Linked DNA regions of Homo sapiens. The protein of the gene in region 1 purifies or fractionates together with the protein of each later gene. This does not show direct contact. Each region holds a gene or a part of one and is shown on either strand. Other genes may lie near its edges.

Evidence for each region. The genes of interacting proteins can lie anywhere in the genome.
Region 2: the proteins of HK3 (region 1) and NADK2 fractionate together in Homo sapiens (co-fractionation; one large-scale study listed by BioGRID). This does not show direct contact.

Annotation. Positions count from the first base shown.
Region 1 is NC_000005.10:176,894,854-176,900,827, forward strand, and holds the start of HK3 (hexokinase-3), read right to left. Parts: upstream 4,494-5,974; 5' UTR 4,414-4,493; intron 1,333-4,413; 5' UTR 1,307-1,332; coding exon 1,211-1,306; intron 1-1,210. UniProt on the Homo sapiens protein: Catalyzes the phosphorylation of hexose, such as D-glucose and D-fructose, to hexose 6-phosphate (D-glucose 6-phosphate and D-fructose 6-phosphate, respectively).
Region 2 is NC_000005.10:36,228,426-36,232,771, forward strand, and holds part of NADK2 (NAD kinase 2, mitochondrial), read right to left. Parts: intron 1-4,346. UniProt on the Homo sapiens protein: Mitochondrial NAD(+) kinase that phosphorylates NAD(+) to yield NADP(+). Can use both ATP or inorganic polyphosphate as the phosphoryl donor.

The DNA of each region.
Region 1 (5,974 bases):
GCAAGCTCTGCCTCCCGGGTTCACACCATTCTCCTGCCTCGGCCTCCCGAGTGGCTGGGACTACAGGCGCCTGCCACCATGCCCAGCTAATTTTTTGTATTTTTTAGTACAGACAGGGTTTCACCGTGTTAGCCAGGATGGTCTTGATCTCCTGACCTTGTGGTCCGCTCACCTCGGCCTCCCAAAGTGCTGGGATTACAGGCCTGAGCCACTGCGCCCGGACTTTTTTTTTTTTTTTTTTTGAGATGGAGTTTTGCTCTTGTTGCCCAGGCTGGAGTGCACTGCCACAATTTTGGCTCACTGCAACCTCTGCCTCCCGGGTTCGAGCGATTCTCCTGCCTCAGCCTCCCAAGTAGCTGGGATTACAGGCATGTGCCACCATGCCGGCTAATTTTGTATTTTTAGTAGAGACGGGGTTTCACCATGTTGACCAGACTGGTCTTGAACTCTTGACCTCAGGTGATCCACCTGCCTCGGCCTCCCAAAGTGCTGGGATTACAGGCGTGAGCCACCGCGCCCGGCCATAGGCAAGTCCTTTATCTCCATTAGCCTTCAGGGGGTGGGGAGGATTAGACTTTATTTTCCTCCATTTTACTGATGAGGAAACAGAGACTAAGAGATATGAAATGGCTTACACAAGAGTTTCCTGCTCAAGGGTGTGGTATGAGACAGCTTCTAAATCTTGGTCAAGATGACAGAAAAAGAAGAAACTCACTTCTGAGCAAGCCTCAGGCATGAGTTTGGCACTAAAATCGTCTGTGTGCCTGATTGTAGCGGCTACATTGAGGGAGACATGCAGGAGGAACTGGAGAGGCGGGAAAGGAAAGGTCTCAAGAACACAACTTTTGACCAGATAACCCTGAGAAAGTCCACTCTAGACTGTGTCACCCACTTGGGGCGGGAGCGGCACCTGTGTGGCAAGGTGGCAAAAATGACATGTTTGGAGCTGAAACACCTCAGCTCAAGCTCCTGTCATGTCTTAAACTCAAGTCATAACACTTCTCTATATCCCTCTTCATCACCTGTAAGATGATCAGCCCAACCTTGCAGTTGTTTGGAGCATGAAAGGAGATCGTTACCAGCTCAGATATGAAAAGCTCAGTGGAAAGGGGCTGCATGGGTGAGAGCCCAGGGCCCCATGGCAGCTTCAGTCACGCTGCTCTTGAAGGCCTTAGACAAGCATGAAACAGGAACCCAGTGCTGAACTTACCAGCTCTGAGCTGTCTGAGGGCCCGGGCAAGCCCTCCTCAGAGCAACTCAGGGTTTCTTCCCCCTGCCGCAACCCTGAAGACCCAATGGAGTCCATGAGCTTCCACAGTGGAAGGTGGCCACCTATGGGAGAAAAGGGACAACCTGGGTCAACCATTTACTCTATAGGCCCTAGGAGTCTGTAACCCAGACCAACTTCCTTCCTTCTGAAGGGGACCAGGAAGGAAGCTGGGAGCAGAATTCAGAACCTCCAACCATCAAAGATCCTGTAGCAGTCAACCAGAAGGCCCTTGTTTTTCACAAGCATGTCTAATGAGAGAGCACTGGAAAGGCTGATTTCAGTCCAAATGCCATTCGTTAATTCTGTCATTCATTGACATTCACCAGTTCCTGATGCCTGCTATGCTGGACGTTGTGGTACAGATGAAGCAGACCTAGGCCCTGCCCTCAGGGACCTCACAGTCTCATCAACAATCACAGTATGATTAGCACAGGCAGTGAGCAAGATGGCCACATGTAATAGATGGACATGCTGCTGTGGTTGGGAGGTCAGGGACATGCTAGAGGCTTGGAACAAAGAGGGAACCAAAGACCTGCCAGAGAAGCAGGCAGGCTGGAAAAGGGACAGCCATTGTGCCAGGCTAAGGCACATGAATTTCATCCTGAAGGCAACAGGGGTCATGGACAGGGGTGGATCTGTGCTTCAGAAAGGGGTTCCACTAGTGACCTGACCTTGGACGTCATTTATGACTTCTTTGAATTTCAGCTTCCATCCATAAAACAGGAGGAAATAATATCTACCCTCACAAGGTTGTTGTGAGCACTAAATAGAATAACACCTGGGGAAATGCTTTATGAGATGTAGTGTGCAACATAAACATCAGGTGGGTTTTAACAGTGAAGTGATGCAGAGCAGAAAGAGCCCTGTACTCAGAGGTGGGAACCCTGCTCTCCACAAGGCAGCTGCACCCCATCTCAACCTCCAGGCTTTTCATCTGTGAAATGGGACCAACATGTATCAAAGGGTTGTGTGGGGCAAATGAGATCACGAGAGCAAAGGAACTTGCTCAGATGTGCATTCAGATTTATGTAGTTGAATCTGAACTGAAACTCTATGATTCTCCATTTCCTCTATAACATGAAAAGCTCAGTTCTTGTGAGGATTAAAGGAGTTAGTGGTCCTTTGCACACTGTAAGGAACTGTAGAAATGTCAGATACTTCGCTCATCCGAGCTGGAGGTGGTATTGCTGTTTCCATAGTCCCAAGGGAGCCCTCAGTGAGTCAGGTGCTCTTTAGGGGTGGGGGAAAAGGGAAACACAGCAGAGGGCCCAATATGGGAAGAGACATCTGTCCACTGAGTCACTTTACCTCCCTTCCTTGCAACAGCAGAACTTCTGGAAATATAGTACCTTCCCACCCCTACACTCCCCTCCTTGCCTACTCCCACTATGCTCACTAATTTGCCCTCCACGTGGTCACTGGTGACCTCCTAACTGCCCAATCCCAAGCCTTTTCCTCAGTCCCCACCTCTGCTGCCCTCTCTCAGGCATGCAAAGCCAGTAGTCATTCTCTTTGCTACAGAATTCCCCCTGTCCTTGGCTTTCACGGCCAGTCTCTCCTAGGTCTCCTTCCTGAGTCTCTCGTAGTCTTCATCAGTAATTTCTGTTCCTTCAGACAATGGGGTTCCCAAGTTTCGGTCATGCCCTCCCTCTACACTCCCTTTATCTCGCCCATTCCCAAGGTTTCATTAATAGCTGTGTCAGGGCTCCCAAATCTACCTTTGGCCTCAGCCAAATCCTAAATCCCAGTGGTCTGTTAGACATCACTATCTGGATGGTGGAGAAGCTCCTCAAATTCAACAAAGCCATACTCATTTTTCCATCACCTTACCCCCACAAAGCTCTTCTGTTCTCCACCTTGACTGGAGACATCGAAGTGTGCTCACTCACACGGCCGTTCGGGCTGCCTGCGCGCATCCCTCACCCTCACCTCCTCTATGCAATTGGATCTCAGGCTCTCTAAGAGCTCTCCTCTGCATCCCCTCCTCCCCATTCCCACACACTGCACCAGACCATCCTCCGGCCTGATTATTACAACAGCCTCCTAAACTGATAGCTCTGCTTCTAGTTTCTTCACCTCCTTACCCCACCCAACTTGATCACCTCTGCACTCATGGCCGGCACAGGGTCTGGTATAGGTATGTGCTAATGTGCCTTTCCAAAATTGGAAGCAAGGGGAGTGGGTAGTTTTTTATTTAATAAAGCAACAAATCAGCTTCTGATAAATCTCCCCAAACCATACATACCTATGCTGAGTTTCCAAATCTGTCAAATAGGGGTGTGGAATTCTTGTTCTATGCTGCAGGTCTATTTCAAGGATAAAATGAGGTAACTGGGGCAATTACCTTCGAAAAGGACTAAGGGCTACACACGTGTCTTTCTCAAGGCCCAGCTAGTTCATTTATTCATTCACTCACTCATTCATTCCCTCATCCATTCAATATTTATTCAGCATTTTTACATGACAGAATCTGTGAAGCAATCCCCAAGTAGCCCTAATATTTATATGCTAGGTAAATGTATTCAGCTCTGTCTCTTCCCACTGAGATTCCCTGTGGGGAGGGACATGTCTCCTTCACTGCAGTATCCCCAGAGCCCAGGGTCTGTTTGCCTAAGGGCCCCGTGGCTTCCCTTAGCTGAATGGGCTACACGAAGTGAGTTTTCCTCCTGAAAAGTACCCCAGGGACCTCTACTGATGTTGGGAGCTGCCATCGAGAACCAGCTGGCAGGCTGGGTGTGGTGGCTTGCACCTGTAATCCCAGCACTTTGGGAGGCTGAGGCAGACAGACTGCTTGAGCCCAGGAATGTGAGACTAGCCTGGGCAACATGGCAAAACGCCATCGCTAGAAAAAAATAACAAAAATTAGCTGGGTGTGGTGGTGTGCGCCTGTAGTCTCAGCTACTCCGGAGGCTGAGGTGGGAGGATCACTTGAACCCAGGAGGTCAAGGCTGGAGTGAGCCCTGACTGTGCCACTGTACTCCAGTCTGGGTGATAGAGAGAGAGACCCCATCTCAAAAACAAAGAAAGAGAACCAGCTGGCTTAATCTTTCCAGTGTCCACTTCCCCTGGTGTGAGCCAAACAGGAGGGATGAGGACAAGACAGCTGTGGAAGGAGCAGGCAGTAATTAGACCGAAGTGCTTACCTGGGACACAGAGAAGCTAGTCACTCTCCTCAGGTCTGAGCTCTTGTCTGGCAATATGAGGCACCCCAATGACCAAAAGCAACACTCAGGGGTGACCCGAGTTATAATATCCTCAAGCCCCACCCTTTTCCTCCACCACCACTTACCAAACATCAGCTAATTCAGGAAGCTGCACTTCCTTCCAAGCCTGCCCTAAGAGTAGCCCAGGCTAGGCAAGGCTGTGGTGAAAACTTGAGCAAGATGATTACCGCGAAGTGGAGCGTTGAACTGGGTCTAAGATTTTGGGCCATTCCCTCTACAATGCTGAGGGCTGTTTATTTTGCAAATATAGTGAGTTCTGAGGTGGTGGCTCGCCCCTAGAAGGAGCTGGAGGCGCCTAGCCTGGAAAGGTTATGGTAAGTACTTTTGAGCAAGAGGCAATGTGGGAGCACAAGCGGAAGGGACTGACTCTGCCGAGAGTGGGCAGGGCTAGCTGAAGAAGCTGAGTCTTGAAGAAAGAACAGCAGTATGCTGACAAAAGTGGTCCTTGACAAAGTGGAGAGCATGTGCACAACCACAAATCACACACACACAGCAATGAGGTGCAGCTCCAGGCGCCTGAAGAGGGTACACCAAGGTAGGAATATATAGTGGGAGAGGAGGTGACAGGCAGACTGCGGAGTCTAGCCTTTAGTCTGTAGCCTGCGCAGGGAGAGTAGGTTCACATCTTAGGTCTTCTCTACTGGAAGAAGGGGAGTGTTAGGCTGCTGTGGAGCTATTGGCGAACAAGCTGTTTTTCTGTGGGAATTTCTCCTCAAAGGCACAGAACCTTGGGGCACCAATGTAGAATACTAGACAGCCTGCAACAATCTTTGTTGAAGGCATGGATACACTTTAAAGCTTCAGGCTGCCTTGTCAGCAGTAACTCTATCCACAGATAGTAGGCCTCCACATGACATCAGGATGGAGACCAGAGATAGTGGCTCCTCTATCAGTAGTGGCATGAAGAGGCCAGGAAACATGCCAAACATCAGTCCTGCTGTGAAGTTTACTGGGTACCAACCAGGCATATAGGCTGTGAAAGGCAGGGAAGTGGGGGATGGGGTGGCAGAGGGTAGAGTGGCTGTCACAAACAACACAGCATCCTGCCTAGCCTGGGATCCCAGTCCCTTTCAACTTTGTTCAGTTGGGAGAGGAGAATGTGGAACTGACTATGAAAGGCCCAGCTGTGATTCATGCAGATAGCCTGCCATTTCTTGAGCCAGGGTGAGGATATGCCCCTGACAAGCATGGCCAGGGCTCTTCATCTGCGTTTCTGGAAGGTCTGTGTCCAGACCCCAGGAGCAGGGGTCCTGGTTCCCTAGTCAGAATGCCAGGGAAAGTCTGGGTCAAGGCCAGTGGAGGGAGAAGGATGGCTGAGCTTGAGGTCTGTGAGCAGCTGGGACAGCCTGGCTGTAGCAGAGGCACTGCAGCTGCCAGCGGTTCTCTTCAGACACCAGATGGCCACTGACCAACAAAGGGAAGGACAAGTCCTCACGAGGTTCCCTCATAGCCCCTTAGTGCCAATCTCCAACTGTAGAGA
Region 2 (4,346 bases), about 140 Mb from region 1:
TTTTCTTTTCTTTTTTTTGTTCTTGAGATGCTGTCTTGCTATGTTGCTCAGGCTGGTCTTGGACTCCTAGGCTCTAATGATTCTCCTGCCTCCGTTTACCAAGTAGATGAGATTATAGGCACGTGTCACTGTGCCCAGCTTATACCTTTCCTCTTTATGTAACAAAATCAGTCTTTCAAATACCTGTCTAGACATGATTTTTTTTTTTTTTGAGACGGGGTCTGGCTCTGTTGCCCAGGCCGGGGTGTGGTAGTGTGATCTCAGCTTACTGCAACCTCTGCCTCCCGGACTCAAGCCGCCCTCCCACCTCAGCCTCCCAGGCAGCTGGGACTACAAGTGCACACCACCACAACCAGCTAATTTATTTTATTTTTTTTTTTGGTAGAAATGGGGTTTTACCATGTTGCCCAGGCTAGTCTCGAACTCCTGGGCTTAAGCAATCCACACACCTTGCTTCCAAAAAAGCTGGGGTTACAGGTGTGAGCCATCACACCCAGCCTAATATACAATCTCAAATATTTTGTTTTAAATCATTACTTACTGAACTATAAAGTAAAACTAATTTTTAGACAGCATTTTAATACATATTTTACTTTTTAAAGGTTATAAAGAAAACACTAACAATATGGAAAATGCATATTTAAAGAAAATTGAAATCAAATATAATCTTATGGCTCAAAATCATTAGTGTTAATATTTTGATACCTACCTTCCCCATCTTTTGCCTACGAATACTGGGTTAAGAGTTTTTAAATAGTTTTGTCCTTGCTTTGTAATTTTCGTTATGTTCTCACAAAAGAGAAGCTGAGGAAGCATTTGGCTATTGTGAAAATTAATTAATAGATGTTAACTTACCAAGATATACTATAATAGATTAGACAGCCTGTGCCAAAATTTAATGCCTAGCCAAAAGCCTCATTAAACTTAGACTAAGCAACCAATGTCAATAATTTTTTAAAGGAAAGCACTGACTATGATAATAACTAGAAAAATCCTTCATTTAATTTAATCAACAAATCAACATGAGTCAGTAAGGTTTGAAAAACTATTTTAGAGTAGAATTTCTTAATATGGACCAACAGAGCATGAATATTCAGATTACCACTATCATTACCCAGCTACAGATTGACTAAAACGGCACTAACCACCTCTCAGTGAGTATGGACCACTACCCTCTCCCTTGGCAATCTCTAGTTTCACGGCTTTAAAAGAGATCTATATGCTGATGCTGATGATTCCCAACTGCTATCTCCCAACCCGGCCTATCTTTAGAGCCTCAAATACATTTATTCAACTGCTTATTTGACATCTTTCTTTGGCTATCTAACAGGCACCTCAAATTTAGAGGGCTAGATATTGAACATGCTAGATACTGAATACTTGAAATGCTATTATTATTCATTCAGTATCTAGCATGTTCAATATCTAGCCCTTGATTTTCTGGCCCAAGAATTCCCCACCTATGGCTTAAGCCAACAGTCTAGAGTCACAGCCGATGCCTCCTTTTTTGCTTATTTCCACATCCAATTACTAAATCTTATATTTGATCCAAGCACTTTTCTCTTCTTCCCCTCTACCACTCATGATCTCACACGTGAACCACTGCACAAGCCTCTGACAGGGGTTCCCTACTTCCACTCTTGGCACCCTATAGATTATTCCGAACACAGAAACCAGAGAGACCACAGCATGTCTCTTCCTCAGCTTAATGCCCTTCTACAAATGGCACTTTCTTCCTACCAACTCTCAGGCTTATGCCACCTGACTTCTGCTCCTTTCTCCTACCTCATTTTTCCTCCCCATTCCCAACACTCTAATCTCTTTGGTCTATTTTCACCAAGCTCTTCCTTTGTACTTGCTGGAATGCTTTCCATCCCTCCACCTAACTCTGACTCTTTTTAACCCTGGGGTGCCAGGACTGCTGAAACAGCTGCTGCTAGTGCTGCCCTTGCAGCTGCAACAGCCACCACTGCCAATTACTCCATCCCAACACCTGTTAATTCCCTTTTTTGCATTTACCACACCTAAAATTTCCTGGTATTTTTAAAAAATCCCTTTGAATCTCCTTACTAGAATATAAGTGCTGGGAGAACAGTGATCTTACTTATCTTGTTTGCCATTGTTCCTCAGGGCCTAAGTACTAGCTAAGTATTTGTTGAATGAACTCATGCATACATTTTCCAGAAAAGCAAGAATAGTGCAGAAGCAGATGCTACAGAAGATAACCCAGAAAGTGACAACAGTGTGCAAACCAACCCTTAGAACTGAGGAGAGTTAGATTAGTTACTATAGTATATTATTTTGTTATAATTATCTCTTACAATTCCACTTTAGGCGTGAACACTTTACACAGCTAGAAGTTAAGCTCTAAAAAAAATTCATCTAAATATTTGACTGCCTACTACTGTGTTCATTTAACTACTAGTTGAACTTAATCAAATGTATTAAACAAGGCACTGCAAACTGCCAAAGACAATGATAACTAATTCAAATGCACAATAAGCCTATTACAACAGTTATATCTAATTTACCACTTCTACTTTAAATAAAACTTCAAGGGTAGCTGGCCCTCATACTTCAATTCCCTATCCAGGATTTTTACCTTATGTTCCAAATTTTGGTTTGGACAATATGGAACATGTACCCAGGAAAAAAGCACATAAACCTTACTGTGTAAGCCCTGTAAATGCTAGTCTGGTAGTTCAGAAACTTTTATGCTTACTTCCTGGCTCTCGGCAAGCCCCAGGAAAATAAGATACATGGCGTTGACTGTTAGGGAACTTTGGCTTGAGATGGCGAAAGGGTCTGAATTTGTGGGAGAAAAAGTTTTGGAGAACTAACAAAAAACTTCAAGTTTTCTATGATTGCTAACAATAATAAAATTCCTAAAATTCCAAATCTAAATACAAAGTTCAGGCAGCATCAGAATACTTAACATTGAAGCAGAAATGTCAGTTCATAAATTCTTATTCCCACTCAAATTTCTTCTTGTGAACTAACTTTCTAATAAGTCATCCTCAACATTCATTTAGAGAATGTAAGTTCTTATTTTCTTTAAAGGCCTCGCTGGTTGGGCTATTAAGCTTTATTAACATGAACTGGCTAAATGAGACAGATAAAAAATAAGAAAATCACTTAATAAACAGCATCAATTAGAAAGGCTTAAATCACTATTCAACTGGCTTTAATTCTTCCCTTACATTCAATCGCCACAGCCAGTGAGTACTGAAGTCCAATAATTATATTTGTTTAAAAGGCATATGCAAAAGCTGGTAAGAATTTCTTGCTAAACCTTTGAAAATAACATGACTTCAAATATCTTAAAACACTCCTTTAATCAGACAAAAATAAGAACACATGATTTCTTAGACAATGTCTTACCATTAAAAGGTTAGAGAAATTACTGAAATTTAGAACACATTCCCAATTCTCTGCAATGTTACACAACATTATTAGTAACAGTCTTTAATATTTTCCCCAAAAACCTGTTAATTCTTCTCTCCATTAAAATAAATAAATAAATAAATAAAGATTCACCAGGACACTTGGAAAAAGCAGGTGACTCCATGAGATCTACAGACAGACAGACACATTTCAATATAAGCAAGAGTTTCTCCTACAGAATCTCCGAAAGCCAAGATCATGTCTCCCCACACAGCTCTGATATTAAAATAAAGCACAACATGTAAGGAAAAAAGCAAGATTTTGAATGGATAGATTTAGCACACTTTAAGATCCAGATGTGATAGTTATGCTATTACCTAAATGGTTTATAACACCTTTATTAAATTATCACAGATGGTTTTACTTATCTAAAACTAAATTTATTGCAATTACAAATTTTTAAGACTTGTTTTACCAGTCAGTTGAGTATTGCTATTTTGTACTCTATGTAATTTCTATGATAGCTTAATAAGGGAAGGAGTTAAGTTTTTTTAAATTTAACACATAATAAATGCACAAACTTTTGAGACAATGACAGTTCAGTATGTCAATCCACTAGGCATAATTTAGGCACCCTTAAAAGCATACACATTTAACTAAATGGTACTCTAAGTGTTACTCAAAATTGCCTTAAAAAGGTTAACAGCACCTAATCAACACCTAGATACTCAACCATTCACCTAACATGATCAGACCTAGTGCACTGAACCCTAAAGACTTCTTCACATATATTTGGTATTTATCTTAGATCATCTCTATTCCACTTACTTTCTCCCAGGCTCTCACCTTTATTTTCCCCAACGTTCTCTATTTCTGCATTCCTCTGTTAATTCTGTTGACCTCCTCCCTTGATATTGCTTGAGGTTCCAACTTTGGTTTTCTTATCTGCTCTCACTTCATTT